Linked DNA regions of Homo sapiens. The protein of the gene in region 2 interacts with the protein of the main gene of each other region in a pairwise test. Each region holds a gene or a part of one and is shown on either strand. Other genes may lie near its edges. The genes, in order: PLSCR1, CTSZ, KRTAP3-3 and BACH2.

Region 1 (5,961 bases), on a different chromosome or scaffold from region 2:
CTTTAGCTATATAAAGATGAATCCTTTCCCCCATTGACTTCATAATCTAATGACAGAGATTTGCAGTTCTAAGGAGGATGTGATATAGAAACTTTAAAAAGGCTCTTATAAGGGGATTATATAATGTGTGTATGTATATGTGTGCATAATATGCATGTATAAAAATTTTATGTAAGGGTATGCATAATAGCAGTTCTTCATGTAAGGGATGGAATCTCTGTCCTACATCCAGAGAAGTGAAAAGTAATTTCTCATTCAAGGAACAATATTAACAGAAGTTTGGCTGGCATATATTTTATTTTTAGTAAATAAATGAAAACACTGGAAAAACATTGTGTAATCCTTGTATTTGATACTAAAAAATTTATGTTTCATCTGGCAGTCTTTCTTGATGGATACCTTAAAGCATCCATTCCATGTAATAAATTAACTTTTCTTCTATTTATCTAGAATGATGATATCAAGGTACTCTCATGGAAAGAATTGAGAAATAGTCACTTGAAGAATTTTCCATAGAGTTGACAATGGAAACTTTGACACCTCAAAGCAGAAATTATCAGTATGAGGGACCACTAAGGAACATGAAATCCACCAGGGTGTCACTGGGCATGGAAACTTGAAGTAATAAAAGAGATAAAAGCCTGTTCCACAGCAGGGGCAGGAGTCATTCTAAAACAGAGAATAACTCAAGAGGCATTTCATAGGTGTACTATGTGGAACTAATTCATGGATTTGATATCAATTGAGGATGAAAAAAATTTTGGAGATAAACTTGATGTGTTATTATTCTGATATTACATTGGCCAAGTTAAGAATCTTGGAGGAAAAACACTTGATTTGTGTCCTCTTGACCATTATGATAGTCTGCTTTTTAAAAAGTAAGGTATCAAATACTAATACACATCTAGGTCAGGGATCAGCAAAATATAATCAATGAGCTGTAGTTGATTATATAAAATATATATGGGAAGTTAATGACTTGAATTAAGGTCATGTTGGATTTTAGTTATGTATAGGAAAAGAATGGAGAGTTTTCAGCAAACAGACAGTAATTGAATCTCTAAGAAGGTTATCTTAATGGTGAGTAAGAGAGAGCCTAGTAGACCTTTTATCCAATATAGGTGATAAGAGAGTCTGTCTCCTTCAAGGACTCTTGGTAGGGGGAAAAAATATGGCCACATGAAACTGACATACCAAGTCAGCTCTGTCTATGAGCTTGAAATCTGAATTCCTGCCACTGTTGTGTTTCAGGAATCTCAAAATATAGAAACTGATCCTGAGTAGTGATAAATTTTATATGGTCAACTATAGCCCACAGATTTTTTTTCCTGCCCTCTCAACTAGATTTTCATTAGTATTCAATAAATATGTTTTTAAAAAGCAGACAATCCTAATGGTCAAGAGTATAGACACTGGAGCCAGATGCCCAGGTTTGAAACCCATCTTCACAACACTTATCTATGTGACTTTAACAAATTCTTTCACTTCTCTTTGCTTTAGTTTTTTTACATGAAAATTGGGTGTAATAACAGTAAATAAATAAATCATTAGTAAGTAAATAAAATAGCTTACCAGCAACTATTAATATACTCATGATACACTTTTTATATTTCTTTGCTACATACCTAGATCCTATATGCTGTCATTATATTTCAGTATTTTGCATTTATATTTGCATTGTGAGATGAATCTATGGTTTTCTTTTTAGAATGCTTTTACCAATTAGTATTGCACTCATGGATTTGAAAGTTTAACATTATACAATACCAATTTATTATTTCCAAATGTTGACATTTTATTATAGTGATTTTCTATTCCAAAATGTCTACAATTTAGCTAAAAATTATCTAGTCCTGCTAATTTATTGGTTGAAGATCATTATTTGCATTTCTTATCCTTGCCATAAAAAATGTATTCTCTACTTTGTTAAATTTCTTGCTGTAGTAATCAAAAAGGGCAAATGTTAATATCTTTATCTGTATAGTGTTGAGTTTACGGTGGCTAGTAAGTTGTCAGCTGCATTTTTCATTTTTTTAAATTTCAGAATTAAAAAATAAAACATAAGAGTTTTCATTACTAGCTTCAAATGCTTCAATGACAGCTATTAGCAGAAAAATACTAACATGTACAAGAAAGGATTTGTATTAGTTTATTTCACCACAGTAGTATTTCATTACACATAATCCCTAAAACTCAGCAGCTTGCAATAAGTGTTTATACTCATGCTTATGGGTGTGTAGGTCAACTGTGTTTCAGTGGATGTATTTAAGCACTGACTTAGGCGCATGTTAACCTCAATCTGCTCCAGGTAGATTTGTTCTATGGCTGTAGCAGCAGCAGCTACCTGAGTCATGCTTTTCTAGTGGCTTGTCACTGAAGATCATAAGCCAGGCCAAAGCACTTAGCCAAGTTTAAGGACACTACTCATGTCATATCTGCTAACACCCGTTGTTCAAACAAGTAACATGGCCAAGCCTAATTATGAAGGAACAGGAAGTATACTGGCCCTACAGAAGGAGAGGGAATGAAATGAATATTTGATGAACAGTATTATGCTATCAGCTTCATATTAGATGTTTATTTCTAGTATTTTACAAACTATCCACTTGTACTCAAATAAAATGAGTCAAGTATTTTTAGATTCCCCACATTTATTTAGCTGAAAAGGACACTCCTCTGTTAATACAACTATATGTGTACATAGTTTTGTGAATTTCAGCTACATTCAGTCCCCACCTGCCCTCCTAGAGGAGTTGCCTTAGTCTGAGCAAAGTCCATTCAACCCTATATGATGGCCCTGGGCTTTCCTCAGGCAGAATTGTAAAATTAGGAAACTTCTACTTCGGAGCTCATTTGTTCATACACTCTTCATCTTTTATTCACACCCCACTAGTTATCCACTCTCAACCTCAACCCTTGGCGTGGGGCATTTCATCAAGTTACTTATTGGTATTTGCCTTTACTCCAAACTGCTAATCTTTTCTAGGTGCTTAGCATTTCATGTTTGGCAACTCACAGTGGGTAGTAATAAGCCTTTTCATCATATTTAATCTTTCAGTCTGTGTAAACTGTGCTTCTCCTAAAGCAGAAGTCTAATAGGAGTTTTGTTCATTAACTTCCTGATGGCTTCTAGAAATGTCATCAAAGAAACATTTCATATTTATATCCTTTTTTGCTTAAATTTTCTTTTGGGTCAATTCAAATAATTTATTAATGTCTATATTAATATAAAATAGAAATTGTTAAATATTTCAGGAAAACTTTCTGAAATATAATTTCTCCGTACAATGAAACAGTTTTTTTCATATATCTATAAATAGATACAGGAGCCTCCAGTTATCTAATGAGGGTTACATATGGTGCATAATTTTAATACCATATTTGTTTCATCTTACTTCAAATTTGAAAGTACTTTTGCTATAAGTTTCCTAAAAGTATTTAATACTTTTTTTTTTCAATTTAGATTAAATCTCTTGATGAACAGTGTGTGGTTGGCAAAATTTCCAAGCACTGGACTGGAATTTTGAGAGAGGCATTTACAGACGCTGATAACTTTGGAATCCAGTTCCCTTTAGACCTTGATGTTAAAATGAAAGCTGTAATGATTGGTGCCTGTTTCCTCATTGTAAGTCTGTTCTTATTAATCTTGATTATAGATGCTTTCTCTAGGTTCATTCTGAAATGATTCAGTAAAGTGTATATTTCAAAATGACATTTTAAAATTTATAGATTTTAAATCAGGATTCCCATTTAATCCTAGCTCTGAAATTCTATTTGATCCTGACACTCTGGGGTCACAGGTGACTAGTTTCTACCTGAAGAGTCTATGAATATTCACATGGCAAGAGGGGGACTAAGGAGATGTACTAAGGAGAGATTTTAGTCTCCCCTTAAATCAGGCATCTCCTAGATGCTTTGAGGAAGAAGTTGAAAGTAGGCATATGTGGAAAAAATTTAGTGAAACAAGGAAACTTTACCATGACTCATAGTAATTAAATTAAACCATCTAATATAGGAGTATGAAGTACAATAAGAGTGTACATTCACTCAAGTGTGTAGACCTAACTACCAAATTACAGGAAATAATTGGATATACCAGTGATTCTGAAATTGCCTTCACATTAGAACCACCTAGGGACTTTAAAAACTCCAAGGACTAGTCCATACCTCAGTTCAACTAAATCAGAAACTTCGAAGTTCATATAGTGTTCCAGGTGATTCCAGTATGCAGCCAAAGATGAGAATTATGGGGATAGAGAAAAAGTAACATTTAGAGAAAATGACTGGAAGATTAATTAAATTCATACAGGTATCAATAAATGAATAGAATTATAGAATTTATTATTAAAATGGAAAGCCAAAGGCAGAACTTATATAATTATAGAGCTTTTGTATATTTACTTATTACATTTAATTTTTTTAACAGATTTGTTACTGTGTTTCACTAGATCCCTTAGTATTTCTGCATCTGATAATTGATCTCTGTTTTGTTGTTGAAAATTCATTTGTATACTTTTGTTTTTATCTAGGACTTCATGTTTTTTGAAAGCACTGGCAGCCAGGAACAAAAATCAGGAGTGTGGTAGTGGATTAGTGAAAGTCTCCTCAGGAAATCTGAAGTCTGTATATTGATTGAGACTATCTAAACTCATACCTGTATGAATTAAGCTGTAAGGCCTGTAGCTCTGGTTGTATACTTTTGCTTTTCAAATTATAGTTTATCTTCTGTATAACTGATTTATAAAGGTTTTTGTACATTTTTTAATACTCATTGTCAATTTGAGAAAAAGGACATATGAGTTTTTGCATTTATTAATGAAACTTCCTTTGAAAAACTGCTTTGAATTATGATCTCTGATTCATTGTCCATTTTACTACCAAATATTAACTAAGGCCTTATTAATTTTTATATAAATTATATCTTGTCCTATTAAATCTAGTTACAATTTATTTCATGCATAAGAGCTAATGTTATTTTGCAAATGCCATATATTCAAAAAAGCTCAAAGATAATTTTCTTTACTATTATGTTCAAATAATATTCAATATGCATATTATCTTTAAAAAGTTAAATGTTTTTTTAATCTTCAAGAAATCATGCTACACTTAACTTCTCCTAGAAGCTAATCTATACCATAATATTTTCATATTCACAAGATATTAAATTACCAATTTTCAAATTATTGTTAGTAAAGAACAAAATGATTCTCTCCCAAAGAAAGACACATTTTAAATACTCCTTCACTCTAAAACTCTGGTATTATAACTTTTGAAAGTTAATATTTCTACATGAAATGTTTAGCTCTTACACTCTATCCTTCCTAGAAAATGGTAATTGAGATTACTCAGATATTAATTAAATACAATATCATATATATATTCACAGAGTATAAACCTAAATAATGATCTATTAGATTCAAATATTTGAAATAAAAACTTGATTTTTTTGTATATTTGATTTTTGTTTTTAAACGAAATGTGTTCAGATGGTATTTTGAGCACTCATTCAGTTAAATGATGGTACATTTGAAGCAGGATATTTCCCTGACCCCTTCACAGGACTCGAGACAGGGGTGCCTTGTTTACTCAGCCTGCCATTCTCAACTCCTCCTGGGAGGGAGTGCACAGGCAAACAAGGCAGGAACTGGAGTGTACAAGCACTGGAACTGGCTGGCCGCTTTGGCATGGGCAGGAACAAACTGTGCAGGCCCTGTGGTAGCATCCAGGTGGGGTTGCCTGCGATTCCTGAAGCCCCAGAAGATGTGTTAACAGTGCTCTTTTAGCTCTGCTGTCTGTGGACGGCTTAAGTGTTAACAGCTCAGTGGGCCCTTTGCCTTGTCATGTGGGACAGCTGCCCTCCACCAGCAAGGGCAAATGGCGAATGTGAGAGCCTTTTATATCGGCACTCATGGCTCCCAGGCTCTTGTCCGGTGTCCAGGAAAAATGTGGTCACAAAAACAA
Region 2 (7,033 bases):
GACCAACCCTTCACCTGAACTCAGCTTGACATCCACCTGCCCACTCGCCCGCTGTCCCGGTCACCTGACACCTCCAGCCTCAGACCTTCAGGTCTGGATGGCTCCTTCCACTACTGTCACCTGACAGCCCATTTCTTCCCCAGTCCTCCCTGGCTGTCCTTCCGGCTATGCAGGCAAAAGCCTGGACTGGTACCCGACTCCTCTGTTTTCTGTCCCTCATATAATCCACCCACAAGTCTTGTCGGTTCTACCTTCGAAGCAGATGCAGAAATCACGCACCGCCCACCGCCTCCTCCAGGTCTAAGCCACACCGCCCCACTGCCGACTGCCCTCACTGGTCTCCTGGCCTCTGCCCCTGAGGCCACAGTGAGCCTGTGACAACCCATCAGAACATGTTCTTTGGCTTGAAACCCTCTCAGGATTCCACTCAGATAAAAGACAGAACCCTCTGGCCTTCAAGAGCCTTCACCATCGGGCTCCCTCCCAGTCCGCCCTTGCTCCCCTGCTCCTGCGGAGAGTGGAGCAGGGAGGTAGCTTCTCCCACCAGGCACCTCCTCTCTCCCTGAGGTCCCATGGCTCCCTCCCTCCCTCCTATGGATGTCACCTCAGCGGGGTCTTCCTCAGCCACCCTATGCATATGACACCCCACTTCCTGAATTATCTCCCGGATTTATTTTTCTTCATGGTGCTGTAGACTTTGCACAGTTACAGATGCTCCTTGACTTAACTGTGGGGTCATGTCCCGACAACCCCCTCGTAAGTTGAAAACACCATGAGTGGAAAATGTGTTTGACACACCCAGCCTCCTGCACACCCTGGCCTGGCTTTGTCTGCATTAAACGTATTCAGGACACTTGTGTTAGCCCACAGTGTGAGTAATAAGCCCGTTCCCAGATGGGGCTGGTGGGATGAAGGATTGAGTTTGGCCGTGGGAGAAGCTTGTGCATACCTCAGTGAGCTGGTTAGGCCGGGTCCAGATGCTTCAGGCAGGAGTAGACGGAGAGGCCAGAACCGAAACTGCTCATCCATCCGAGCTCTGCCTCTGGGCCAGGACTGCTGTCGCCGGGTTGGGTTGGGCATAGAAGGATAGGGCTCGGGGGCAGGCCATGGGACGCCCTGCACTGCCAAGTGGAACTCCAGAAGCCCAGGCAGGAGGTGCTTCCAGAAGGATGGAGCGACCGCTGTGCTGACTGCTGCCGGAGAGTGGTCAGCTCGGATGACAGTGGAGAAGTGACCTTTAGCAAGAGAGAAAGGGCTGAAGAGGAGCGGGGCAGTAGGGGTCGGGGCACTGTCTCAAACCATTGAGTGAAGCAGAAAACCGTGATAGTGAGTGGGAGGGGCCGGGGGCTTCCTCTGTTGTTGTGAGAAAGGCAAGTTTGGGGTGTGCAGATCTGCTTAGAGGGGGCATAGCTGACAAGGGAGCGGGGAGAAGGAAAGCTGGAGGGAGCCAAGTCCTTGGGAGGAAACAGGATGGAACCTAGGGTGGGTCGGTCAGGTGGGAGGGGACAAACCAGCCACCGGCTGCTCCAGGAAGAGGGTTTGGGGTGCAGAGCATGGGCAGGCTGGGTGGCGGCAGGATGGAGGTCTGCTTTGGGACTTTTCAGTGATGCGTGAAGTCACCAGAGCAGGGACAGTTCCAGAAGGCCCCTGGCTGGGCGACCGGGAGGAGGCCAGGTGGAGGAGCGGACTGTGGGGCAGTGTGGGAGAGTCTGGAAGGTGACAAGAGATGGAGGGGATGTGCAGGTCCAGAGGGGGCTGCCAATGGGCAGAGGGACTCCCTGCTCATTGTGCCCTGGGGGAGGGACAGGTGAGGCTGCAGGAAGAGTTCCGACTTGAACGTGGGGTCAGGAGATGAGGCCTGAGGCAGGTGCAGGGGTGTGTGGCTGTGAAATCATTGTCCTGGGAGGGCAGAGTGAGATGACCCTGAACATGGGCCCGGATTTCCTTCTAGGATCTGTTTTATTGCATTTGTGCATGGGAAGGGAAGCAGGTCCCTCGGTGACCACCCTGAGCTGTCCCTGGCTGCACCTTGGGATTTAGAGCCCAGCCACCTGGGCAGTGAGGGCATGGTCAGCCAGCCGCTGGGAGCCCTCTGCATCCCCCAGTGCCTTCGGGGCTGGGTCCCTGCTGGCCTTCCCCAGCCCTCAGGACCGCATCTGGCCCCTCACTGGGGCTCATGCGGCTCCCTGGGCTATACTCGTTCACAGAGCTGACACCTTGGCCCCCTGTCCACGAGGGCAGGGACGGTCTCTCCTGGCTGGCTTTGGGGTGTGGCCCACTTGCCATGGGTGGCTGAGTCTCTGTCCATTCAGCCCTTCATTCAGCAGGCACTTCTCAGGTGTCTGCAGGGCCAGATGCTGGTGACCGCCTGGCCCTGGCCCTGCTCTCATGGCATTTGTAGCGGGAGGTGTGGCAGACAGGACAGTGCCCAAAGAAGGCCAGGAGAGGCCTCTCTGCAGAGCGACGTCTGAGCGGAGACCTCCATGAAGAGGTCAGCAGGGAGAAGGAGACACAGGCAGCTGGGCAGAGCTGAAGGCAGGCCAGGCTGGGCAGCGCCTGCATCCCGCCTGAGGCGTCCAGGTCCGTTCGGGGAAGTGGGTGGAGAGTGGGTGAGTGCTGACTGGCAGGTGCTGACTGTTGCAGATCGGATCAACATCAAGAGGAAGGGAGCGTGGCCCTCCACCCTCCTGTCCGTGCAGAACGTCATCGACTGCGGTAACGCTGGCTCCTGTGAAGGGGGTAATGACCTGTCCGTGTGGGACTACGCCCACCAGCACGGCATCCCTGACGAGACCTGCAACAACTACCAGGCCAAGGACCAGGGTAGGCTGCTGCCCGTGCCCCCACTCCACCCTCCTGCCCTCCACTCCCTCTTCCACAGGCCTTCGTGGCTGAGGACCCAGCCTGACCCCGTGCTCCTCACATTGGCTGGTGGCTGGGGAGCTGCGGGAGGGCAGAGGTTGCAGCCCCCAGGGGCGCTGGTGCTCTTGACCATGAGGGGTAGTGTTCCCAGTGCCAGCTCCAGCCTCTCGCTGCAGAAGCCCCCTCTGCTATCTTGCACCCGCTTGGGCTGGGGATCAGAAAACTGGACCCCGTAGTCCCTGTTGAGAAGCCCAACGAAAAAGCCTGCTGCAGGAGCGGTCTGAAGAGCATCCTTGGCCATGCGCGCGGTGGCTCATGCCTGTAATCTCAGCACTTTGGGAGGCCGAGACAGGCAGATCACTGGAGGTCAGGAGTTCAAGACCAGCCTGGCCAACACGGTGAAATCCCGTCCCTACCAAAAGCACAAAAATTAGCTGGGTGTGGTGGTGCACACCTGTAATCCCAGGTACTCGGGCAGCTGAGGCAGGAGCATTGCTTGACCCGGGAGGCAGAGGTTGCAGTGAGCCAAGATCGCGCCACTGCACTCTAGCCTGGGTGACAGAGCAAGACTACGGCTCAAAAAAAAAAAAAAAAAAATACCGGCCCTGTCCCCATGTCTCCAGCCTCGTGGAAGAGTGTCTTGCTCCTGTGCCCCTTTGGCTGGGCCTGAATGTGGTGTTTGAGTTCTGACATGCTGGCATTTTGGTGGCTTTTTGGGCCTTTGTAGGGGAGAGGTGTAGGGGGCCTTGTGGAGGGAGAGTTCATTTTCCAGGAGCTTTGGTGGAGAGCAGGTGGGGAGGTGCTGCCCCAAACTGGAAGGAGCCATTGGCTTGGTTCCTGTTCTGGTGACCCAGGGCCCAGGTCCCCCACATTCAGGTGCGGCTACGGCCAAGGGGGTGCTGTGTGGATGAGCAGACCCAAGCTAGCCTGGAATCCCTAGAGCTGGCACATTCCTTTCAGGCTGCTCCCATTAGAAACAGAAGGAAAGAAAAGTCCAGACCCTAATCCCATAATTGGTAGGTTTTGTTTGTTTGTTTGTTTGTTTTTGAGAGGGAGTTTTGCTCTTGTTGCCCAGGCTGGAGTGCAATGGCACGATCTCTGCTCACTGCAACCTCCGCCTCCCGGGTTTGAGTGATTCTCCTGCCTCAGCCTCCTGAGTAGCTGGGATTACAGGCATGCGCCACCACGCCCAGCTACTTTTGTATTTTTTAGTAGAGACGGGGTTTCTCCATGTTGTTCAGGCTGGTCTTAAACTCCCAACCTCAAGTGATCCACCTGCCTTGGCCTCCCAAAATGGTGGGATTACAGGCATGAGCTGCTGCGCCCGGCCATAACTGGTAGTTTGTTTTTTTTTTTTGAGACGGAGTCTCGCTCTTTCGCCCAGGCAGGACTGCAGTGGCGCGATCTCGGCTCACTGCAAGCTCCGCCTCCCGGGTTCACGCCACTCTCCTGCCTCAGCCTCCGGAGTAGCTGGGACTACAGGCGCCCGCCACCGCGCCCGGCTAATTTTTTGTATTTTTAGTAGAGGCGGGATTTCACTGTGTTAACCAGGATGGTCTTGATCTCCTGACCTCGTGATATGCCTGCCTCGGCCTCCCAAAGTGCTGGGATTACAGGTGTGAGCCACCGTGCCCGGCCATAACTGGTAGTTTTAAGCCACCTGACTCAGATCTCCCTCACAGCCAGAGCAGAGAGCTGGGAAAGCCCAGCAGCTGCTTGCTTTGCTGCCTCCACCCCTGCCCCAGGCTATATAGGCTGGCCCCAGCGCCCTGTGCACTCTGAAGTGGCAGAAGGTCCTCTGGGCACCACCCTCTGCCAACGGGGCTCCCTTGCCTTGCCTCTCAGGCCTTATTGTTCAGCCAGAAATTCTCCTGGACTGGCTGAGTGAGTCCTTCGAGAAGGGGGACAGATGGAAGGTGCAGAGGGAAGGGCTATCAGATGGCTCTGGAAGCAGGAAGCAGGTATCAGGTGGTCTCCAGGGCCACGCCCACTCCACGCCAAAGTGCTCTCGCCCAGCTGAGGCCAGGCCCCTCCAACCCACCCAGCCTGACAGGAGCAGATGGAGCTCATCAGAAACCTGATTGTGTGACTGGTGACCGCGGTGGCTCACACCTGTAATCCCAGCACTTTGGGAGGCTGAGGCGGGCGGATCACTTGAGACCAGGAGTTCGAGACCAGACTGGCCAACATGGTAAAACCCTGTCCCTACTAAAAATACAAAAAATAGCCGAGCGCGGTGGCATGCGCCTGTAATCCCAGCTACTCAGGAGGCTAAGGCAGGAGAATCACTTGAACCCAGGAGGCAGAAGTTGCAGTGAGCCAGGATCATACCACTGAACTCCAGCCTGGGTGACAGAGTGAGACTCTGTCTCCAAAAAAAAAAGAAAAGAAAAGAATAAAAAAACCTGATTGCGATAAATAGTCATCTTTGTAGTGTTAGCAAAAGTGTGGCCACACATCCACCATTTTCCCGTAGTACTGGGCACTGGGCACTTGGTGTGCAAGGAACAAATTGAACCAGTGTCTGAGCCTCAAGGTGCTCATGTTCCTGGGGGAGGAATCCCGACAGATGTGTAACTATGACAGACAGGTCGCGCCAAAGCAGCGAATGGCAGGCCGAGGGCCGCCGTGTGGATGGAGTGAAAAGTGGGAACACAGTGACTCTGAGCCTTGCAAAACCGAGAGCTGTACTTTTTCTTTTTTTTAAATTAATTTATAAAATTTTTTTTCTGTAGAGATGAGGTCTCGCTCTGTTGTCCAGGCTGGTCTCAGACTCCTGGTATCAAGCCATCTTCCTGCCTCGGCCTCCCGAAGTGCTGGGATTACAGGTGTGAGCCACCACGCCTGTCCTTTCTTTCTTTCTTTCTTTCTTTTTTTTTGAGACGGAGTCTCGCTCTTGTCGCTCAGGCTGGAGTGCAATGGCGCGATCCTGGCTCACTGCAACCTCTGCCTCCCGGGTTCAAGCGATTCTCCTGCCTCAGCCTCCACTGAGTAGCTGGGATTACAGGCATCCACCACCACACCCAGCTAATTTTTGTACTTTATTAGTAGAGACAGGGGTTTCACCATGTTGGCCAGGCTGGTCTCAAACTCCTGACCTCAGGTGATCCACCCACCTCGGCCTCCCAAAGAGCTGGGATTACAGGCGCCTGGCCCTCTTTATTTTATTTTTTAAGCCTAATTCTTGATAACCTCTTAAGTCGAAATAACCAGAATTTTTTTTTTTGGTCCCCTCAGCGTGGGCACAGAAGAAAATGCTTTTTTGTGGTTGTTGTTACCCAAAGTATTGGCCTATTTATTCACCAGCCAGCAATAGAGACATTTTATTAAGTGCTAATCATTTGATTATGCTCCATTTTCAGCTAGAAAGTATTGTGGAAAGGTCCTTCTCCAGCCATTAGAGGAAAAAGGCGAACTCCTGGGTGCCTACTATGTGCTAATTAATGTCTGTCTCTTTTCTTCTCTGCCAAGGCCTGGGGAAGGGCTTTTCATAACTCCCTGGCAGCTGAAAGAAGAGCGTCATTAAGCAGCACCTAATAGCAAGATGATTTCCGTTCTTAGCTGCTGAGTGGTAGGCTGCATGATGAGAGTGGAGAGTGGGCTTGGCGGGCTTCTTTGTCAGTGGGTTGATGAGGAGACGGCCTCATGCTGACTTTTCTTGCTCTCCCCCAGAGTGTGACAAGTTTAACCAATGTGGGACATGCAATGAATTCAAAGAGTGCCACGCCATCCGGAACTACACCCTCTGGAGGGTGGGAGACTACGGCTCCCTCTCTGGGAGGGAGAAGATGATGGCAGAAATCTATGCAAATGGTCCCATCAGGTGAGGAGAGGTCCCGCGGGCAAAGAGAGGTTTGCGGGTGAGGAAAGGTCCCGCGGGTGAGGAAAGGTCCCGCGGGTGAGGAGAGATCCGCGGTGACAGCGCCAGTGTGGGCTCATGTCGGTGCTCATGTAGGCATCTCCGTCCTTCGCCACTTTCCTTCTGGCCGGTTGTACTCAGTAGGCTCGAGACAGCCACATCATTTCCCCTCTAAGAACTTCAGTTTTCTCAGAGTTAACACTCAGCTGATAGCAAGTCTGCCCCTATGGATGGTTGTGCGGAATGCGGATGAGACGCTCCAAGCTGTACCGAGGGGGCAGTTTCAGCAGGGAAGACACTATGTGAATAACA
Region 3 (5,576 bases), on a different chromosome or scaffold from region 2:
GCACAGATGTTCTACCACAGTAATCAATAGAATGCCAATACTTTTCAGGTGTCTCAGGTTGAGAGCTAAAACTCTGATTACGTATGCTTTAATTCGTTACTTAATTTTATCAACCTACTTAATTTTATCTCATGAAGATTTTTCTTTTCCAAGCCTAGAGAGAACAAGTATATATTATATATATAATACATCCAATACATTTATGTAACACATATAAATATATGTGTGTATGTATATCTATACACAATACATATATAAAGACACAAGTCAAAATCTGAAAATGCATTGAAATAAAACCACAAGAAGACATGCAAGAAACAGAGTAGGACAAGGAAGGGGAGAAGCAAATGCTTTTTAACAAACTTGTTTTAAAATGTCCTCAATGTACCTGTTAGTGTCTTGAGAGAGAAATTTCTCACGGGATTCCATAGGCTTTTTACAGCTCAACCTTAAATGAACAGAACTTAGCAGCCATGGAGTCTATGGGACACTACAGAGGATATTGTCAACAAGAGATCTAGTCCATTCACTCATTCATTTGTCCATATTTCCTGAGTGTTTGCCCTATGTCAGGCATCATATTGATGCCAGGAGTAAAAAGATAAAAGAAATGCTATTACCTCAAGTCTCAAGTGCCCTCAAGTCTCTCCCAAATCTAGTGAAGAAGAAAGACAAGTTATCATAATAATAATTGCAATGCTGAGGGATTCTGCTGTGACTGGGAGGTGAGCAGCATGGCATGCAAGCATACAGAAAGAATAACTAAAACCCTGATTTGGTGATTCAGTGTCAAAGGTGAGAAATAGCTACGGAAAGCCTCTGAGCTATCCAGTCTAAGCTTTAAAAGATGAATAGGCAGCAGGAGAGGTAGGGAACAGTTGTTCCAGACAGAATAGCAGCTTAATAAATCATGGAGGCAGCGGAAAGGTTGGTGTCTTTAAGCCACAGGAGGTAGTTGGGAATGACTGGATGAACAATGCATTGAAGAGGGTGAGGCAGAGAAGACAGAAATGCAAAGACCCAGACATAAGGGGCTCCTCAAAGCAAAGGGGTTTGGACTGAAACTTTGAAGCAATGAAATATTTCAAGCAAGAGACCAATATAATCATGTTTTGCTTCTGTCTCTTTTCATTATTAATCTTTGATTTACATCTGCACTGTCCCAGATCCCTCCATTGACTATAGAAAGATATAATTAAAACTGGACTTCTTGGATGTGTGAGTGTGCGTGTGCGTATGTGTGTGTGTGTCTAGATTTTTAGCACCCCGAAAATCTACCATCTCATCAAGAATCACCATGTTTTTCCTACATTCACTTAAAGAAAAAAGATACGCGTTGTTTTTAAAAATAAAATGCTTAGTATCTCTGACACATAGTTTAAACTTCCATTTCTAACCACATAAAAGGTAGCTCAATCCCAATAGGTCCTATATTTAGTTTTTAACACACTGGCTCCCGAACCATCTAAGGCAAATCATCTCACCTCTCTATGAATCACTGTCATCATTTATAAACAAAGGAGAGTAATTCTCAGGTCTCTTAGACCACTGCAGAGAAAATACATTTTAATAAAGTGCTGCAAGTCTTGTCAATAAAAGAGAAGAGCTTATTATAATAAACTTGTTGCATTACAACTGTTTGTAATCTGTAACCTTGTCTTATTTATGATTAGAGAAACACAATGTGCTGCATAAACAGTAATAGTTGCTCTAAGCTTTTATGGTGAACTCAAAGTAATATTGTATCCCAGGTAAGAAGCTGATAGCTTTCTGCCATGAAATTCTAATCCTGAGGGTCTGCAAGCCATGTTTCCTTTGTAATGTTTCCCTCAAAATAATTTTTTCTTTTATTTTTTGTCTTTTACTCTTTTTCTTTCCTATTATAATGTATAATAGCAGCAGCTTATAATAATATGTTATGTGTATGAAAAATTCTTCCACCAAACTGTAAACTTCATGAGGGCAAGGATGGTGCCTATCTTGTTTATTGCTATAAATCCAACATTTATCACAGTGACTAGCACATAGTAACTGCTCAGTAAATGTCTGTTGAATTACTTTTTAAATAATAAGTGAAATACTAATCAGTTCTAAGTAAAAGGGTGCACACTTCGGCAGGCATTCATACAAAGATAAATCTGGGGAAAGTCCAGGAACCAGAAGATATCATGAATTCTCCCTTTCAATCAGAGCCATAGGGAGCTTTTCAAATTTTTAGGTTTGTTAATTTATATGCCAACCACTTTCTCTAATCGTAGATGTGATTATTTATTTATTTATTTATTTGTATAAACTAATATAAATGTTTGCTCTTTCCTGTAAGGTTGCTCTCTTACTTACCTTCATCTCATTTTCTTTTCTTCTTTTGACTATGTTTCTTTTATCTTTACCTTGCCTTGAATTTCATCTGTAATTTGTTTCAATCATGATAATAATTTATTTTTGCATAGCATTATATGGTTGTCCATGAGCTTTCACCCTTTTTATCACATGTGAACCTCACAATAATCTTCTAAGTGGAGGAATATGCATGCTATTACCCTGATTTCGCAGAGAAAAAGGATGAAGCTCCTAAAAGTGAATTACTTACCATAACGAGGAAGATAACCAGCAGCACCGGGAACAGTCAAGAGCTATTCTGACTCCTCAGGTGGTCCTCTTGACTACACGTCCCCATTCCCAAAACATACAAACATGCACACCACAATGCACCACTCAACAGGTGTGCCTAAAAGAGGAGGTATGAAGAATGTGAGAAGAACCATGGCTTGCAAGAAGCATGAGACCAAGCTGAGCGGAAATGGTTCGAGGTGTATAAATGATATTGGCCACAAGCCCACCTTGTGCTCCCTCTTAAACACTGAACTATGCCTGCAGTCTAAATAGCGTACTGGTACTAGAACCAGGTCTTTCCTACCACAGCTACATTTGATTTCAGGAAAAAATGCAATACCTTGCAAAAAAAAAAAGAAAAAAAAGAGAGAGAGAGAATGAAATCAAATGTCAACAGATTAATCTAGCTCAGGCTCATAAGTTTCCTTTGGTAATAATTTTACTTGAATTTTAGTTTTGTATTCTTAAGTTATTATTTTATTTAGTCTATATAGACAGAAGCTAAAAATTCAATTTGCCCACAATTAGCAGTGAAGGAAACAAAGCAAGCCAACTCTCAATAGAAGACAGATGGCCAATATGCATATGAAGGAATATTTCAACCTAGCTGGTTATAAAAGAAATACAGACACAACAATCATAAAATTGTGTTTTTCACCAATGAAATTGGAAAACACCTTTAAAATAAAGTATCTGTCAAAGGTATACGAAATGGGAATTCTTAATCAAACACATCTGGTGGAAATAGATAATTTGAAAAAAAAAGTAGGTAAATAGAACCATTCTGAAAAACAGTATGGCAATGATATGAAAGGCCTTAAAAATACTGGAAATTAACATTTGCCCCTATAATTCTACCAAATAATTAATTCTGTTTCTGAAATAATCAAAAATATGCACAAAGATTTACATACAGAGGTGCTCTGTTGCCAAAATTATTGTAGAGAAAAGTGGAAAATAACCTCAATGCATAATAATATAAAATTTTAAAGTAACATAGAAGTGCAATTATATAATAAATGCTAAGAAATATTAAAAGTAACACTATCAAATATCCTTTAAAATATAAGATAATTATATATATATATAATATATATGCACACACACAAAGGCAAGTTTCAGAACCTATGCACAATATGATTCCAGTAATGTAATGTAATGATAAACAATGTATACAAAATATTTTGTAGTAAAAAACTAGAATAATAAGCGTTTTTTAAAGTTTTTCCATATTTCTTAATGGCATATTTCTTCATGTTAATGTAATTTTGATCTTCAAAAGCCTCAAAGCTAAAAGAAAGTAAAATTAAGTTCAACTCTTTAAAACAAGAATACTTTATCAGACAAATTGGTATAGATAAAGTGACAGATTAAAAATAAAGCAGCACTGGAGAGCAGGCCCACATATTACAGACTCACTGTCATGCAATATTCCCCAGCAGGGCTGGTGTTGAAAATATAATAACAGAAGGCTTTGGTGATACCTCATAAAGCTTGTGTTCCAGTGACAAATAGCAAGGGTAATCAGTTCAGATTTAGCAACGAACTCAAATAAAAGTTAATTAGGAAAATGGGGACTCTTTACAGAGTCTAAATGTCAAACAAATTAAAGAATAATGGGTACACTAACATAAACAAGAACCAGGAAAGAAGCCTCTTGGCTGGACCAACTCCCAGTGGAGAGGGTACATAAGAGCCCCAGAGAAAGGAGAGATATTCACACCTCAGAAGCCTTATCCTTCTTTTCAATCAAACCCATAAATACCACAGACTCTAATAGCCATGGATTGCTGTGCCTCTCGAGGCTGCAGTGTCCCCACCGGGCCTGCCACCACCATCTGCTCCTCTGACAAATCCTGCCGCTGTGGAGTCTGCCTGCCCAGCACCTGCCCACACACAGTTTGGTTACTGGAGCCCACCTGCTGTGACAACTGTCCCCCACCCTGCCACATTCCTCAGCCCTGCGTGCCCACCTGCTTCCTGCTCAACTCCTGCCAGCCAACTCCAGGCCTGGAGACCCTCAACCTCACCACCTTCACTCAGCCCTGCTGTGAGCCCTGCCTCCCAAGAGGCTGCTAATGGATGGCTACTTTGCTCAGTGCCTGAGATTGAAAAAGTCAACATAGAAGCTTTAGCATTCACCTATCTCAGTACCTACAACTAATGTACTCTGCTTTAGAAATTGGAACAAGGATGGTACTACCACAATCACCCCCTGCAAAAAAAAAGAGACCAAGAAACTTTCAATGACCATTCAGCTATAACCAACTGCAGTTTGAATCAGTGGATGCCTATAGCTTCCTGAAGCTGTTCGATTCCTTCATATTAAAGTGTCTCTTTCTGTGGGTGGTTTGGGAATTCTGTTTTCAGTCTTGGGTGGTATCTTTCTGAAAATTAAGGAAGTTCTTCATGATTATCCTAATAAATTTTACATCTCTGGCATAGCACAAGTGTCTACAATTACTTCTGTTTATTTCTGTTCATTCATTAAATGCGTTTCTTAACTCTGAACATTGGCATTTAAAGAAAAACTGGAAACATTAGTGAAACTGAAAATGGTGGCAGTATGGACAAAAATTTCTTAATTTTGCTGTTCTTGCTGTTTTAAGAAAATTAAACATCCTTGCATGTAAGATGGTCTAGTACATCGGCATATTTGAAAGTAGACTTTTCCTGACTTGTCCTCCCAAAAAATGGTTTCAGACAGGTTGAGAAATACTGAACATTACCCAAACACCAAATATGACAAAATATATAAACTAATCCAGGTGACATGATCTATTTATGAAAAAAATATAATAATGTCATTATTTATTCAACTAAGATTTATTAAATGTCTATTGTGTGTCCTGTGTTTTATTGTCTCTGCTGAAAATAAGCTAACCATCTGGCAGGTGAAGCAAATACAAACACAACATCCATTTGTTTCTTCCTACGGTTAATAATTATCGAATGCCAGTTGC
Region 4 (7,381 bases), on a different chromosome or scaffold from region 2:
TTTCATCCAGGGATTTCAAGGCAGTTTGCAAATAATTAAGCCCCTTACACAGCAGCCAGAGGTGAGCTACTGGAAAAGAATTGCCTGAAGATACTAAGTCAAAGGGCATAATTCAATAGGAAAATAATAAATGGCTTTCTCCCAGGCACTGGTAATACAGAAAGTGAATCCTGATCCCCTCCCTCTCTTTCACCTCACCCCTTCTTCTTCATAGCAGATCCTGACATGCAACATACAAAGAACCAAAAAAGTAACTAACAGGAGTGTTCACAATTTAGCTATGAGTTCAGACACACACTTAACTGAGAAGTGTGTGTCTCCATGTAATCCTGGCAAACACACTACCAACTGACATTTCAGTCCACCTGCAGAATAGACAGACAGCAGAAGAATTTACTCAACACATTCATGATTACCAAATGGCAAACCTGAAGCCTCCTGCAATGCAAAACGAAAATACGGCTCTGCACCAATAAAGTTATGTTCTAACAAAAATACTTTATTCCATGGTTGTGTGTTCCATTTCTGGGACTTCGCTCTATTTCAATGATATTCAGGTTTCGAGAGTAAAAAAAACGTTGGAAATGGGCAATCAATAAATTTCTTTCAAAAACCAGAATACTAGAAGGGAAAACATTTCAGCCACTCAAAGTTTTGTGGTGAAATTATAAACTCCAGAAAAACTGAATTTATAATGGAAATGCTGACAGACCTTTCAGTGGAGCAGTTTGAACGCAACACTGTAATTTGGCAATCTCTCTTACAGACTAAAGACTAATTCTAACAAGATGTCATTTTGACTCACGTTTATTATTACCTGCAAGAATGAAAAACGCCGTTTACTCGGGAGGTGCCCGAGAACCAGGGTGGGGCGATCTCACATTTTAAGCAAGACGCCCGCTGCCTTACCAAAATAGCCCTCTCCGCCAAAGGAGGGGCAGCCTTTCACGCTCAGCTTCTTTCATGTCAGCCCGAGCCTTTGCAGCAAGACGTGCCTTTCCTACATGTTACATTTTAATGATCTGAGAAAACCGTTATCAGCGTTAACATCTCTAATTTTACTCTAAACAGACAAAAGCAAAATATCTCATTAGGCATCATCTCCGCCAAGGTTCCCACTAGGCAGGAAAGGATTTTTATCTAAAGTAATTACCCTTTTTAGTTAAATACACTCAACAGATGAAATTTACAGAGAGTGAGAGACTGCAGCACTAGACAGCGAAGGTGAAAACCAGGAACGCCGCGTCTCGCCGCCCGCGGGCCCGCCGGGAGACTGCGGGTCCGTCTCGCGGGTGGGGCGCCCCGGTCCCTCTCGTTTCCTGGAGGCCACAGGTCACGGCGACGGCGGTGACCGGGAGAGCAGGCTGCGAGGCGCGCCTCATCGGGCCACAGACAAACCACCCCGGCAGCGGCCGCGCCGGAACTTCCCTCAAGTTACCAAACTCGCCTACGCGCGGGAGAGTGCTGGGGATGCCCCATGCGCCCGCGACCCCAGAAGCCAGGAGTGTGCCACCCCTTCACACACTCACTCCCGGCCCTGCACGCTTCCCCTCACGGTCCGAGTTCCTGCAAATGCTTGGCCAGACCGAGGTCGCCGAGATGCTCGCTCCAGTCTCTCCCCTCGTGGGCACCTAGGGTAGCCCGTGAGCGCCGCCCGCCGCCGTCTCCAGCGGCGCCGGGCTCCCGAACACCCGCCGGGTGAGCGAAGCACAGCGGGGCCACGGAGCGCCTCGACGCGGGGACGGGGAGGGCAGTGTCCCCTTCATAAACCAGTCTCCTGGGTGAAGCTTCTGGGGCTTGGAGACTGGAGTGTAGGGTGTGTGTGTGTGTGTGTGTGTGTGTGTGTTGCACCTTGACTTCATGGAGGATCTGTGGGAGAGGAGGTGCAAGGTTTCCCTCTCAGAAGCCTGGCGCCCTTAGGTCTTAGCTACGCGGGACGCTTTCCGACAACCCGATCTTTCGCTAGGAGAGATTCGATCCAGGTCTGCGCCGCGAGGCCCCCAGCTCGCCTCTTCCTGCGACCCTAAACTTGGGCTTTGATTCCCCGCCGGTCGCGGTGGTCCGGGCCACCCGGCGGCGGCTGACAGCTGAGCGCAAAGGCGCCGCGGCCAAGGTCCTCGCGGAGCAGCCCGGGATGCGCACGCCGAGGGTTAAGGAGGAGGCCGCCCGGCCTGGAGCTGGGATCGCAGGCTGGGGGCCGGGACACCCGGGCCTCGCCGGGCCGGGGGCAGGGCCGCGGGTCTGACAGCTGCTGCGGCTCGCGCGGACGCGCGCCTCCTGCAGCCCGCCCTCCCCATGCCTGACTTATTACTCTCTGCTCCTCCTCCCTCTGCTGTTCCAAAACACCCTTCGACGCCAGCAAAATACAATGCGCCTCGGCCGCCGTAAACAGCCGGGAGGGAGAGCACACATTCGGCGCGGCGCGGCCGCCGGCTCGGCTCCCACCCCCTTCCCGTTCCTAGAAAATGCCATAAAAGCGGGCAGGGCGCGGGGAGGGCGGCTGCGCGCCCGGCGGCCGGGGCTCCCTTCCCGCGCCGTTTCCCCACGCCTCCCCGCCCGCCCCGCGCGCCCGCTCCCCCCGCAAACTTGCCCCGCCACCCCGCCCAGCGGCGGGGCCCGGGGCCCGGGGCCCGGGACTCACCTCGCCGGAGAACTTTGCGTCCTTTTCCGCCTCCTCTTCCCCGCGTCTTCCCGGCTCGCAGCCCCCTCCCGGCAGCCGGCGAGGTGGGCAGTTCGTGGGTCACCGAAAGCTCGCGGAGGGGACGCGCATCACATGGCAGCTCGTTCCCAGCCCCCCGAGTGCGCCGGGAAGGGGGAGGGGAAGGGGCGAGGGGAGGCCGGGGGGAAAGCGAGAGCGGGGCGGCGGCGGGAGTGGGCAGGCGGGGTGGCGAGGGCGGCGGCCGCTCACGTTAGCGCTGTGCGACCGCAGCCCGGGCGTGCACGGCCGCTGCTGCCGCTGCTGCTGCTGCTGCTGCTGCTGAGGCGGCGGCGGCTCGGCGCTGTTTGCTCCGCGCCGCGCGGCTTGCGCTCTCCCCGGAACGCCCACACTCTCAATCGCTACATTGTTGACATTCGGCGCTGACGTCACCCGCTCCCCATTCACAATAACTTTACGGGAGCCGGGCAGCGCACCTCCCCGGCCGCTGGGGCGCGGTACGCCCGGCGACTAGCGTAAGCCGCTCCGCGAATGGCGCTCCGGGGGCTGGGGCGGGGGGCGGGGGACGGGGGCGGGCGCGCGCGCTCCGCTGGCTCGCGGGAGGGGGCGCGCCTCATGCCGCCGCAGCAGCAGATCTCCCCGCTTTGTGCGGCCGCGCGGCCCGGAGAGCCCCCTCCTCCCGGCCCGGCTGACCGCCCCGCTCGGCCTGGCCTTCCCGGCCACGAAAGACGAGGGTTGGGGGCATAGCAGGGTGAGAGTAGTGGTGAGGGCTGGTGTGGCACGTGGGGAGGGGGCCAGAGCCCTAGGTGCTGCACCTGGGGAAGGAGAGCAGACGTCGGGACCGGGGATCCCAGGGTTAGCTAGCGTTTTCCCGGAAGGGCAAGAAAAGATGCTCCACTGGCCCCCACAAAGCTGACCGGACTCCCTTTTGGGTGGGGACCGGGCGAGTAAAAGCAGCCTTTTGAATGTTGACTTCTCAATCCTTTTCAGGAGGCCCTCCGCCTGCCCTACTGAGCGAACCTTTAAGCCCCCAAGCCAGTGTTTTTGGAAAGAGAGTGGTCAATTTCAGGAGGACATTAAAAGCCAACCTCCCGGGCTTCAGCCCCAGCTCCTACTGCCTTCCAGCCACTCTCCCCTGCCTTTCCTTTCTGCGGCTCTTAGGATGTTGTTGCTGCCCTTAAAGGCCGTCGTGTGAGTGCCCTGTCAGAAGAAAGCTTGGTGGTGGTTAGGATTTTACAGAAGGTAATTAGGATTTAGGCTGAATGTACATTTGCAATAAAATAAGGTTGTGTTAGTGTTGTGCTGGTGCCTGCAACTTTACCTCTTGCCAAGGCCAGAAAATTCTGCCACGTTTCCCTAAACACCTATAACTTGGCCCTCTTGTGTACAGGCAGTATTCCATATTATTACACGTGGTGCTGATTTTTAATGAATATTATAAAAGTTTGGCTCGCTCTACTGAGAGAAGGATCATAAATCCCCCCTGTAAAACGGGCACTGGCGTATGCTGAGGAAGCAGTGAAGCGTCCTGGGAGTCTTGTGATATCATCTAAAGTGTTGCTCTGAACTACCTTCATTTGAGGGCAGAGTTTTGAAAGGCCCCATTTGGAATGTCTGTGTGGAAAGCTAAGTGATGGCTGAAAGCAAGCTGAAGGTGCTGAGCTAATTTTTCTAACAGCACTGCAGAGTCCCTGCGTGGAGGTCTGGCACGGGACTGTGAGATTTTCTCTGCTAACCGACCCGGCCTTCAGATAAGGAAAAGTCCTAGAGCTAGGAGTAGCCCTCAGTCTCCTGACCTCTGGTCTGGTGCCCCCTAGGACAAAACACCCTGCTTCTGAGGTCCCTGCCTGACCCCTGGCAAGGACAGAGTACTAATTCCTGGTCTGCCCTGGCCAGGCCGTTTCTTATAGTTTTATGGATGGTTCTGTTTCTCATTCCTCATTCTTGTAAGTATGTGTTTGTGAGATAACTTTACGCATTTTAGTAGCAGCAATAAATGTTTTTCTCACAACAAGGGATGCTTGAGAGCATCCGTATGAGAGTGGTGTAGATTCATTTATTTTCAAGCAAGCGGTGGCTGCCCAGCTGTGAGTGGAGTTGGGCACATCAGCGTAGGGGTGGTTGAGGAGGGAAATGAGGCTGCCAGCTGATCTCCCACCTCCATTCTGGATTCTACAAGCTGATCTTGTCAGATGGATACAACAAAGGCTAACAGGTCATTTCAGTTAGTCTGCTTGCCCAAAGACTCAGACTGGAGCTTTTTCACTTTGAGATTTTCAAGCATGAGGTGGGACATTAAATAGAGATGAAAAAACCTAAAACACCTGTGATAGGTTGCATCATCCAGTCATTCAAGGAGGCTGAATTAGGAGTAGTTAGCCTCTCAGGTTACATCCAGCTCTGCAATCATGCACCTCTGGCTGTAAGACGAAATCTTTGCTTTGGATAAGCTTTGAAGTCTGGTAGTGAGTTCATTTTTCTACTTTATTTTCGGTAGTTAGAAGTGGGTTATTTGAATTCAAGCCGAAAAATACATTCAGAATTATGTGAAATTAAAATGGTAAGTCAAGTACTAGACACTCATTTAACAGTACTGCTGCAGAGGTTGGGCTGTGGACAGCCTTAGCACCTCCATCATGAGTTTGCATGGCCACTCCTGGGCTTGTGCTGCTCTGGCAATTTAGGCGTTTATGATGTGAAACAGATCCAGGTCCTTCCCTCTGTATAATCATGGCAGTAAGTTGAGTGGAGGTCAATTTATTTCTCATGCCTGGAGCATTCAACCTTTCCTGATATACATTTTTTTCCTACATAATTACACATGTGTGTTGATCCAGAGCATGGGCTTTGTCTGTGATTCATTTCTAAGCATGATATTTCCAGGGACAATAAATCTGTATCATGGCATTGAAACAAATAAACTTTATTTCTATAATAGAAATCTTCTTGATTGTAGAAAATAAAACAGGAAAAATTAAAATATACAGGAAACAGATGAGGAAAGGAAGACGGACTAAAGACATGGGCAGTTCTTGAGCCTTTGATTTTCTTGCTCTCCAGCACCCTGTACAGGATTTGATGATGTTGAGAAAATATTGTATTTTTTCTTAGGCAGAACAGTAGACAGAATTTCAAATGTGGTACCTTGAATAAGGCATGGCAGGGCAAATTTAACATCCAATGAAATCTGACAAAAGTGAATGGAGTGGGATGCTGTAGGGGTTTCTGCAGACAAGGAACATGTCCTGGCCTCAACTCCTAAAGGATCACTCTGCTGGGTCACGGGAAGTACAGGAATGGAAGCAGAGAGACCAAGTAGGAGGCTATTGAGATAAGTCATTAGAGAGGTGATGGTGATTTAAACTATTAATAGAATGCTAGAATGACAGCCATAAATGGAATCCAGATATATTTTCAGCATAAACCGGACAAGATTTGTTGATGATTCCATTGTAGGATATGAGAGAAGAGTCAAAGGAAATTCTGAATTTTGGACTGAACAGCTTATTAATGGAGAGTTCATTTATCCAGGCGGAGCAGGTATGGGGGAAATGCTGAAACATTTGGTTTTGGATATAGTACATTTCAGATGTCTATCAGACATCTAAGTGGAAAAGGTGAGCAGGTAATCAGACATGGGAATCTAGAATTTAGGGGAGAAGTCCAGACTAGAGATAGAAATCTGTGTGTCATCAACACAGCAACTGGAAACATGGGTGGAGAAGAGGAGCAAAGAGAAGAAGTCTAAGGTTTAAGACCTGGGGCACTCCGACATTTAGAGGTCAGCAAGATGAAGAAAAAAAGATCCCCACAAGGAAGCTGAGAAGCTTCCTTGAGAGAGAAAGGGGCCAGTTCATCCCAACCAACAGAAGGAAGGGCAGCACAGGTGGGGAAGTGCAGGGAGGCTGGAATATCATGGTAGGAAGTATGGGAAGCCGTTGTCTGAGGAATTCTGTTTTCTTAGTGGAGTAAGAAGATAGACCGTTCACTGATAGTGGAGGAGGGAAGGATAGATTTAGGGGATAGAGAAAAGATGTGAACCAGTGCCAGGGATGTGGCAGAATTGCTGGACGGCACAGAGGACCTTGGGGGCCCACTCCTGGGGGCTTTCTGGACACACCACTGCCAAGAAGAGATTTCTCATTGTACAAAATCTCACACAAGTTTTGAAAAATGATCAGGGCAATCCAAACCAGAAAAGCAAAAATTTTGCTTCTAGCTATTGTTAAATTTGGCTGGCAGCCTTTTTCCTTCAAACTGTATATCTCTTATCTGTCCCATCTTCATCTCCTCAAAGATTGCCTCAGTTCCTAAGAAGGACTTTGGAAATAGTCCCTAAAAGAAAGTGATGTTCTTATATTACTATCTATAGTGATCTTCTTCTATAGTAAAGAATTGATGCCACTATTATCTAAAAGCTTATATGAAATAAACTAGTAAAATATGGTATATGAAATAAACTAATTTTTCAACATACACTACTGAGCATCTGTTACATGTTGAGGTGAAAAATTAAGAAACATTGGACTGTATCCTTAAGGAACTTAAATCTACATAAGGAGTCAAAACTAATATACATGAAACAATTGAAAAATGTAATTTTGTATTTGATTTTATTACTTTTATATATTAATATTTAAAATTATATAGAAATTGTATGTGTTATAATTTATACTAATGAAAAAATTAAGAATGTACAGATCTTTTTTGTATGATAGCAAAAAG

The links.
Region 1: the proteins of CTSZ (region 2) and PLSCR1 interact in binary tests that used the Homo sapiens proteins (3 or more experiments, as listed by UniProt).
Region 3: the proteins of CTSZ (region 2) and KRTAP3-3 interact in binary tests that used the Homo sapiens proteins (3 or more experiments, as listed by UniProt).
Region 4: the proteins of CTSZ (region 2) and BACH2 interact in binary tests that used the Homo sapiens proteins (3 or more experiments, as listed by UniProt).

What each region holds. Positions count from the first base shown.
Region 1 is NC_000003.12:146,514,670-146,520,630, reverse strand, and holds the end of PLSCR1 (phospholipid scramblase 1), read left to right. Parts: intron 1-3,463; coding exon 3,464-3,625; intron 3,626-4,529; coding exon 4,530-4,586; 3' UTR 4,587-5,451; downstream 5,452-5,961. UniProt on the Homo sapiens protein: Catalyzes calcium-induced ATP-independent rapid bidirectional and non-specific movement of phospholipids (lipid scrambling or lipid flip-flop) between the inner and outer leaflet of the plasma membrane resulting in collapse of the phospholipid asymmetry which leads to phosphatidylserine externalization on the cell surface.
Region 2 is NC_000020.11:58,997,255-59,004,287, reverse strand, and holds part of CTSZ (cathepsin Z preproprotein), read left to right. Parts: intron 1-2,643; coding exon 2,644-2,823; intron 2,824-6,534; coding exon 6,535-6,685; intron 6,686-7,033. UniProt on the Homo sapiens protein: Exhibits carboxy-monopeptidase as well as carboxy-dipeptidase activity. Capable of producing kinin potentiating peptides.
Region 3 is NC_000017.11:40,992,917-40,998,492, reverse strand, and holds KRTAP3-3 (keratin-associated protein 3-3), read left to right. Parts: upstream 1-4,328; 5' UTR 4,329-4,395; coding exon 4,396-4,692; 3' UTR 4,693-5,063; downstream 5,064-5,576. UniProt on the Homo sapiens protein: In the hair cortex, hair keratin intermediate filaments are embedded in an interfilamentous matrix, consisting of hair keratin-associated proteins (KRTAP), which are essential for the formation of a rigid and resistant hair shaft through their extensive disulfide bond cross-linking with abundant cysteine residues of hair keratins.
Region 4 is NC_000006.12:90,293,839-90,301,219, forward strand, and holds the start of BACH2 (transcription regulator protein BACH2), read right to left. Parts: upstream 3,006-7,381; 5' UTR 2,642-3,005; intron 1,369-2,641; exon of another isoform or gene 1-1,368. UniProt on the Homo sapiens protein: Transcriptional regulator that acts as a repressor or activator. Binds to Maf recognition elements (MARE). Plays an important role in coordinating transcription activation and repression by MAFK.